2 linked regions of the Homo sapiens genome follow. The protein of the gene in region 1 purifies or fractionates together with the protein of each later gene. This does not show direct contact. Each region holds a gene or a part of one and is shown on either strand. Other genes may lie near its edges. The genes, in order: ZNF556 and NEK7.

Region 1 (3,824 bases):
ACGCTGGAGGAGTGGGCCTTGCTGAATCCTGCTCAGAGAAAACTCTACAGAGATGTCATGCTGGAGACCTTCAAGCACCTGGCCTCAGTAGGTGAGGATAGCATTATTTCTGCACTTAGTTATTAGATAATAAATGTTTTGTCTGGTTGCAGTGGTTCATGCCTGTATTCCCAGTGCTTTAGGAGGCTAAGGCAGGAGGATCACTTGAGGCTAGGAGTTGACAACCAGCCTGGGCAACATAGTGAGACCTTGTCTCTACAAAAAAAAAATCAAAAATTAGCCCGGTGTGGTAGCATGCTCCTGTAGTCCTAGCTACTTGAGAGGCTGAGGCAGGAGAATCGCTTGAGACCAGGAGTTCAAGGCTACAGTGACCCATGATCACACCACTGTACTCCAGCCAGGGTGACAACTTGAGACCCTGTCTCAAATAAAAAAGAAAAAAGAGCCAGGCACGGTGGCTCACGCCTGTCATCTCAGCACTTTGGGAGGCCAAGGCGGGTGGATTGCCTGAGCTCAGGAGTTCGAGACCAGCCTGGGCAACACGGTGAAATGCCATCTCTACTAAAATACAAAAAATTAGCTGGGCATGGTGGTGCGTGCCTGTAATCCCAGCTACTCGGGAGGCTGAGGCAGGAGAATTGCTTGAACCCGGGAGGCAGAGGTTGCAGTGAGCCAAGATCATGCCACTGCACTCTAGCCTGGGCCATAGAGTGAGACTCCGTCTCAAAAAATAAATAAATAAATAAATAAATATTTCTTGCTCATTAAGCCTATTCTAAGATTTAGAATGCAGAAGGGGAATACATTGGTTAATAAGACAGTTATAATCATTGATGTCCTGGACCTAAAATTCAGTAGCTTCTCTGTGATAATAAAAATCTACCTATCAATCTGTACTTTTCTTTCTGCCTTGTTGAAAAGACTTAGGATCAGCCAGGCGCGGTGGCTCATGCCTGTAATACCAGCACTTTGGGAGGCCGAGGCGGGCGGATCACGAGGTCAGGAGTTTGATACCATCCTGGCTAACATAGTGAAACCCTGTCTCTACTAAAAATACAAAAAATTAGCCAGGTGTGGCGGAGGGCACCTTTAGTCCCAGCTACTTGGGAGGCTGAGGCAGCAGAATCCCTTGAACTCGGGAGGCAGTGGCTGCAGTGAGTCGAGATTGTATCACTGCACTCCAGCCTGGGTGACAGAGTAAGACTCTGTCTCAAAAAAAAAAAAAAAAAAGAAAGAAAGAAAGAAAGAAAAAGAAAAGACTTAGGGTCCTTTTGTGTTACCAGCGCAGGTATATACTGGCGGCACAGAGAGGTTAATTGTTTGAAACCTTGTGATGATTTTTCTGTGTATTTAAAATTGTCTACCATTTTGACTGCTTGTACTTTTTTTTTTTTTTTTTTGCTTCTCATTAGTTGAAATCCTTGAGAGGGACAGCATCACAGGGACTCTGTGTCCAGTGGTCTTAGCAGGAAGATTGCTTCAGAATTTGGCATGAATCATGCCACTGTTTCTGTGGGCCTGAATGCCCTTCCCTCAGATGATTCTGGTTTGGTTTGGTTTGCCACCAGGAGTTACTGTGTTGTTGTTTGCTTTGTATACATAAGCATGTCTCTTACCCAAATAGAATTCAGTTTCATCTTGAACATAAACACCTTCAATTATTACTATTATTATTATTTTGAGACAGAATCCTGCTCTGTCGCCCAGGCTGGAGTGCAGTGGCACGATCTCGGCTCACTGCAAGCTCTGTGTCTCAGGTTCACGCCATTCTCCTGCCTCAGCCTCCCGAGTAGCTGGGACTACAGGCGCCCGCCACCACGCCCGGCTAATTTTTTGTATTTTTAGTAGAGACAGGGTTTCACCATGTTAGCCAGGATGGTCTCCATCCCCTGACCTCGTGATCCGCCCGCCTCGGCCTCCCAAAGTGCCAGGATTACAGGCGTGAGCCACTGCGCCCGGCCAAACACCTTCAATTTTAAGAAGAACTGTGTGCTCCCTTTGGTTCTGGAGACCCTGCTTATAGGCAGCCAAAATGGCCTTGGACCACCACCTTCCAGACACATTTTCTTTTGGGAGTCGTGTTCCCTGCAGGCCTCCACAGGCTCCAAGATGGCAGAAGGAGAGCTCTTGTACTTCTTCATAATGAAGTCAGGCCGGGCACAGTGGCTCACACCTGTAATCCCAGCACTTTGGGAGGCCAAGGCAGGCGAATCACAAGGTCAGGAGATCAAGACCAGCCTGGCCAATATGGTGAAACCCCGTCTCTACTAAAAATAAAAAAAATTAGCTGGGCATGGTGGCACGCACCTGTAATCCCAGCTACTTGGGAGGCTGAGACAGGAGAATCGCTTGAACCCGGGAGGCAGAGTTTGCAGTGAGCCGAGATCGCGCCGCTGCACTCCAGCCTGGGCGACAGAGTGAGACTCCGTCTCAAAAATAAATAAATAAATAGATAAATAAAATAAAATCACATAATGAAGTCATGAAACAATTAAACACCTGAATTACTTCTTTCTTTGCAGATGCCTTCCTCATCATATTGGTTCACTTTTTTGTTTCAGATAATGAGGCTCAGCTTAAAGCCAGTGGGTCTATTTCTCAGCAGGATACTTCTGGAGAAAAATTATCCCTCAAACAGAAAATAGAAAAGTTCACAAGAAAGAATATATGGGCCTCCCTTTTAGGAAAAAATTGGGAAGAACATAGCGTTAAAGACAAGCACAACACCAAGGAGAGACATTTGAGGTGAGTTGTACTTAGAAGAAAAAGGCAGTATCGCCAGGCACGGTGGCTCATGCCTGTAATCCCAGCACTTCGGGAGGCCAAGGGAGGCGGATCACCTGGGGTGAGGAGTTTGTGACCAGCCTGACCCATATGGTGAAACCTTGTCTCTACTAAAAATACAAAAATGGGCGCGGTGGCTCACACCTGTAATCCCAGCACTTTGGGAGGCCGAGGGAGGCGGATCACCTGGGGTGAGGAGTTTGTGACCAGCCTGACCGACATGGTGAAACCCTGTCTCTACTAAAAATACAAAAATAGGCGTGGTGGCATGTGGCTGTAATCCTAGCTGCTCAGGAGGCTGAGACAGGAGAATTGCTTGAACCCAGGAGGCGGAGGTTGCAGCAAGCCAAGATCGTGCCACTGCACTCCAGCCTGGGCTGGGCAACAGAGTGAGACTCTATCTCAAAAAAAAAAAATGATAATTCTGTTAGAAACAATTATCAGAGAGCCCCACATATTACTATTGTTTTTGTAATGGACTGTGGTTGAACTATCTACCAGAGTATTTCGTTTATTCTAGTTTGAAATAATTTCAACAGTACAGGAAACTTACCCTTGTATAGAAAATGGCAAAAATGTTATCCTAATATTCATTAATATATATTAAGAAATAATTGGCCGGTGCAGTGGCTTATGCCTGTAATCCCAGCACTTTGAGAGGCCAAGGTAGGTGGGTCACCTGTGGTGAGGAGTTTGTGACCAGCCTGACCAATATGGTGAAACCCTGTCTCTACCAAAAATACAAAAATTAGCTGGGCGTGGTGCCATGTGACTGTAATCCCAGCTGCTCAGGAGGCTGAGACAGAATTGTTTGAACCTGGGAGGCAGAGGTTGCAGTGAGCCAAGATCATGCCACTGCACTCCAGCCTGGGGAACAAGAGCAAAACTCCATCTCAAGGAAAAAAAAAAAGAAATTATTAAGGCATAAACCATTAATAATGTGCTACCCATTTTTAGCAGAAATCCAAGGGTGGAGAGACCATGTAAAAGCAGTAAAGGTAATAAACGTGGAAGAACCTTCAGAAAGACTCGAAATTGTA
Region 2 (3,824 bases), on another chromosome or scaffold:
TGCAAAAAAAATCTAAGTCAGTACTGCAAGCTGATTAAAACCCTAGTTACATAACAAATAAAAAAATTAATGACATTTTTAGTAATCAGCTTGATCAAGTCTTCCTGATTCAGCCAGCTAACATTCCAGGAAAAGAAGGTACAATGTCAAAGGAGTGGCAGAATCCAAGTCTTTTTAATTAAAGAAGTAGTTATTAGACACTACCAGAGAGGGCTGGCCTCTTTACACATGATGCTTTAAACTTCATTGCAATCTTATAAGACAGGTAGTATTGGCCACAATAACAAGATGAGGATTGAGGCTCAAAAAGATTAAATAATATGCTTATGATCATAAAACTAGTAAAGGACAGAATCAGGACTTGAAGCCAGGTTGTTCTAGCTCCATAGTCAGTGTTTTCTCAATGAGCCAGGCTGTCACAAAGTCTAATGCATACACAACTAGCTAATAAGTATTAAAATATATGTGTGTACAAAGTGTAGTATTAGAAACCTAAGGAAGAAATTCCTTCCATGTAGGGTGGCGGGTACCATTAGAGGTGAACCTTGAAAGAATTATAGGATTCTGCCAGTCAGAAACAAAAGATATCTACTGCATAAAAGTAAATATGGAATAAGGGTGTAAAATTACAGCTTATAAGAGGCAACTTTTTCTAGATATCATTCTTAATATCCAAAGATACACAAAGTTCTAATTTGTCTTAATTTAAAAAACCATATGAAGATATTAGATAAGATTATAAAGCAAAAATAAAATCCATAAACTCACTGCCTTAAAGAATTTTAGCTTTGGCTCAGTCCCTTCTATTTCTTGTACAAACGCATGTGCTTTTTGCATAGTGAAAATAGCAGTATATAAAATGATATATATGCTTTTTCACTAACATTATTTTGGTTCTACTACTTCTAATGAAAACTTCAAGTATCAAATTTACGTTCTGCAACTTTTAATGTAAAATATTGAGCACTGCAGTTTAAGATTTGAAAAAATATAAAGCCTTACCTTACTTGATGGTTTACAAAAAGAGACAGACTAGATTACATCAAAGTTTCTCCCACTTAATCAAATAACAGAAGAAGAAATATGTATGCCGGTACATATATTAAAGAGAGTTAACTTCTCTTTTTTCCATTAGCAGTAATTCTAACCATGTCAGCCACAGTAAACTCATGTTAACTACCATGATTTCAGAATGGAACAGAATGCAACACGATGAAACAACAGCAAGGAAAGGAAAAGGGGTTAAAAAAAAAAAAGGAAAGGACTATGAGTGGCAAATCACTATCACAAAGTTCACATAAACTATCTAGTAAGATATGTTTTAGCTAACATTAAGCTGTTGTATACATTAAGCTTTGACAAAATGAGCTAGATATAAATGGACACCAATAGCAGGGGTTAAAAAAATTACCAGTATTAAAGAACAAACCATATGACACTATTTATGGAAGGAAGGAAAAACCTTGCAGAAATTTTCTCCAAGAGCATCATAGTTTTAACTCTACACACAAATTATTAATATGAATAACCTGATCCTGAGTACAGACAAGCTTAAACTGTTAATGCCCACCCTTTCTACATATAAAAATCCATGCTGAATGCCATCTTACTATCAGATTTTATTACAGATACAAATAAGAAAACCATCTTGCAGTCCTTTAAGATGCACAGTGTCAGATGCAGAATGCAGACTGCAACACAGAAAATTAACACGCAACTTGTAAGTGCTACTTGTTCAAAGTGATGTAAGAACCTTAATGGGGGTGAGCATGGCTGGCTGGAAGGGCTCTCAATAACTGATTTATATAAGCAGGAATGCGTAATGCCCTTCAGGAAAATATATATGTGTGTGTGTGTGTGAGTGTGTGTGTAAAATCGAAAGTTCTTGAACTGAAGGAATAAGCTTTACATTTAGCAATTTCACATAGAAATGCCATTCATTCCCCCAAAGGGATTATTATATCAACATGTTAAACAATAAAACAAACACTAATGGAAACAGAAAAATTTGAACTTGATATTAGTTATAGGTATGAAACACACACACACAGACTACTTGCACTTTAAATCAAAATGGCATGAGAAATAACTGATTCTTGACACATCATAAATGCTGATGCCATTCTCAGGAAATGCTATTTACAAGGAATTTGAGATAAATCAAAGATATACTGGAAAGCACAAAATTGTAAGTATATCAGATCTTGATGTAATTCCTGGTATTTTTGTTTGTTTGTTTTAGGAGGCAGAGAAAGAATAATGCCCATATAGTACCAGTAATTAAAATGAAGAAAATCACAAACTTGGAGACATATATGTATTTAATCTCTCAGTAATCAATGTCTCTATGATGTGGAACAACATTTTTAAAAACAAAAGAGGGTGAGTGAGATAAGAATGAATAATAGATGTATAAGAGTTTTAGGAAACCATAACAAGATACAACATATCAAGATAGAAACATGCTACATAGAAAATCTTTAATTCAAGTTATAAAAATTAATTTAGAATTACAAATTGACTTTTATTTTTAACTGAATTTTCAATAATATCAAAAGTCACTCCTCAAACACAGGGAGAAATAAGCATTGATGGCACATCTAAAGCAAAACTAAATTCTGAGCAAAATACATTTACAAATACATTTAACTGGAAATTCAGAAGTATCTTATCTTTCTTTTTCTCTCAGCCAACAAGTCAAGACAAAAATAAATAATAATGAATATTTAGATTACATCATTCCCAAACACAGATTCAAAGCTGTCCGATGATTTCATGAGCAAGAAAAAGCAGTATGTCTTGGGTGAAAATATGGACTTTGTAAGAATATCTTGCATATAATATGTACAAACAAGTCTTTAGGAGGCATCATTTTCATTCAGCTCCACCAAAGTTTCTTCAGGTTTTTAAACTCATTTTATACTTGGTAAGAGCAAGGGATGAGCTGTGGTTAGGCAAGTAATGACTGATAAATTCTTGGTATTCTCTGAATCATTTTAAAGGTTTTCTTTTGTCATCTTAAAATTTTGCCAAAATTACTCATAGCTAATGAAACTGAAAAGGTTAACACTAGATTTCTTTAAAAGGAAATGAAATCCTTCTAGTAACTTAACAGAAATATCCCCTTAAAAAGGCATATGTCAAATTGTTAGAAGAAAGACCATTTAAAATGCAGAAAACAAAGTACTTAAAAATATATACTAAGCAAGTTTTTGTTGTTGTTGTTTTTCTTTTTTGAGAGAGTCTTGCTTTGTCTCCAGGCTGGAGTGCAGTGGCGTGATCTTGGCTCACTGTAACCTCCACCTCCCGGGTTCAAGCGATTCTCCTGCCTCAGCCTCCCAGGTAGCTGGGACTACAGGCGTGTGCCACCACACCCAGCTAATTTTTGTATTTTTAGTAGAGACAGGGTTTCACCATGTTGGCCAGGATGGTCTTGATCTCTTGACTTCGTCATCTGCCCGCCTCAGCCTCCCAAAATGCTGGGATTACAGGCGTTGAGTCACCGTGCCCGGCTCTACAGCTGGAACCTTCCTGTCACTACCCTTCAGATGACTGACTCCTTATCCTCCACCTACGCTTAAATTTCACATCCTCGGAGAGGCCTTTGCTGCACACTCTATCTAAAATGCTCTCCTCCTCTAGTTTGTCTCTAATACCACAGCATGGTCATTTCCTTTTTGGCTATAATTATTTGATTTATTTTTTGCTATAATTATTTGATTTATTGTCTATTTTCCACACAAAAATGTTGGATTTAATTATTGTGTCCCACTATTGTGTCCCTATTGTCAAGTACAGTGTCTGCCATATAGTAGTTTAACCCC

The links.
Region 2: the proteins of ZNF556 (region 1) and NEK7 purify together in Homo sapiens (affinity purification with mass spectrometry; one large-scale study listed by BioGRID and IntAct). This does not show direct contact.

The regions. Positions count from the first base shown.
Region 1 is NC_000019.10:2,873,532-2,877,355, forward strand, and holds part of ZNF556 (zinc finger protein 556), read left to right. Parts: coding exon 1-91; intron 92-1,276; exon of another isoform or gene 1,277-1,295; intron 1,296-1,402; exon of another isoform or gene 1,403-1,652; intron 1,653-1,967; exon of another isoform or gene 1,968-2,132; intron 2,133-2,471; exon of another isoform or gene 2,472-2,538; intron 2,539-2,561; coding exon 2,562-2,745; intron 2,746-3,741; coding exon 3,742-3,824. UniProt on the Homo sapiens protein: May be involved in transcriptional regulation.
Region 2 is NC_000001.11:198,257,848-198,261,671, reverse strand, and holds part of NEK7 (serine/threonine-protein kinase Nek7), read right to left. Parts: intron 1-3,824. UniProt on the Homo sapiens protein: Protein kinase which plays an important role in mitotic cell cycle progression. Required for microtubule nucleation activity of the centrosome, robust mitotic spindle formation and cytokinesis.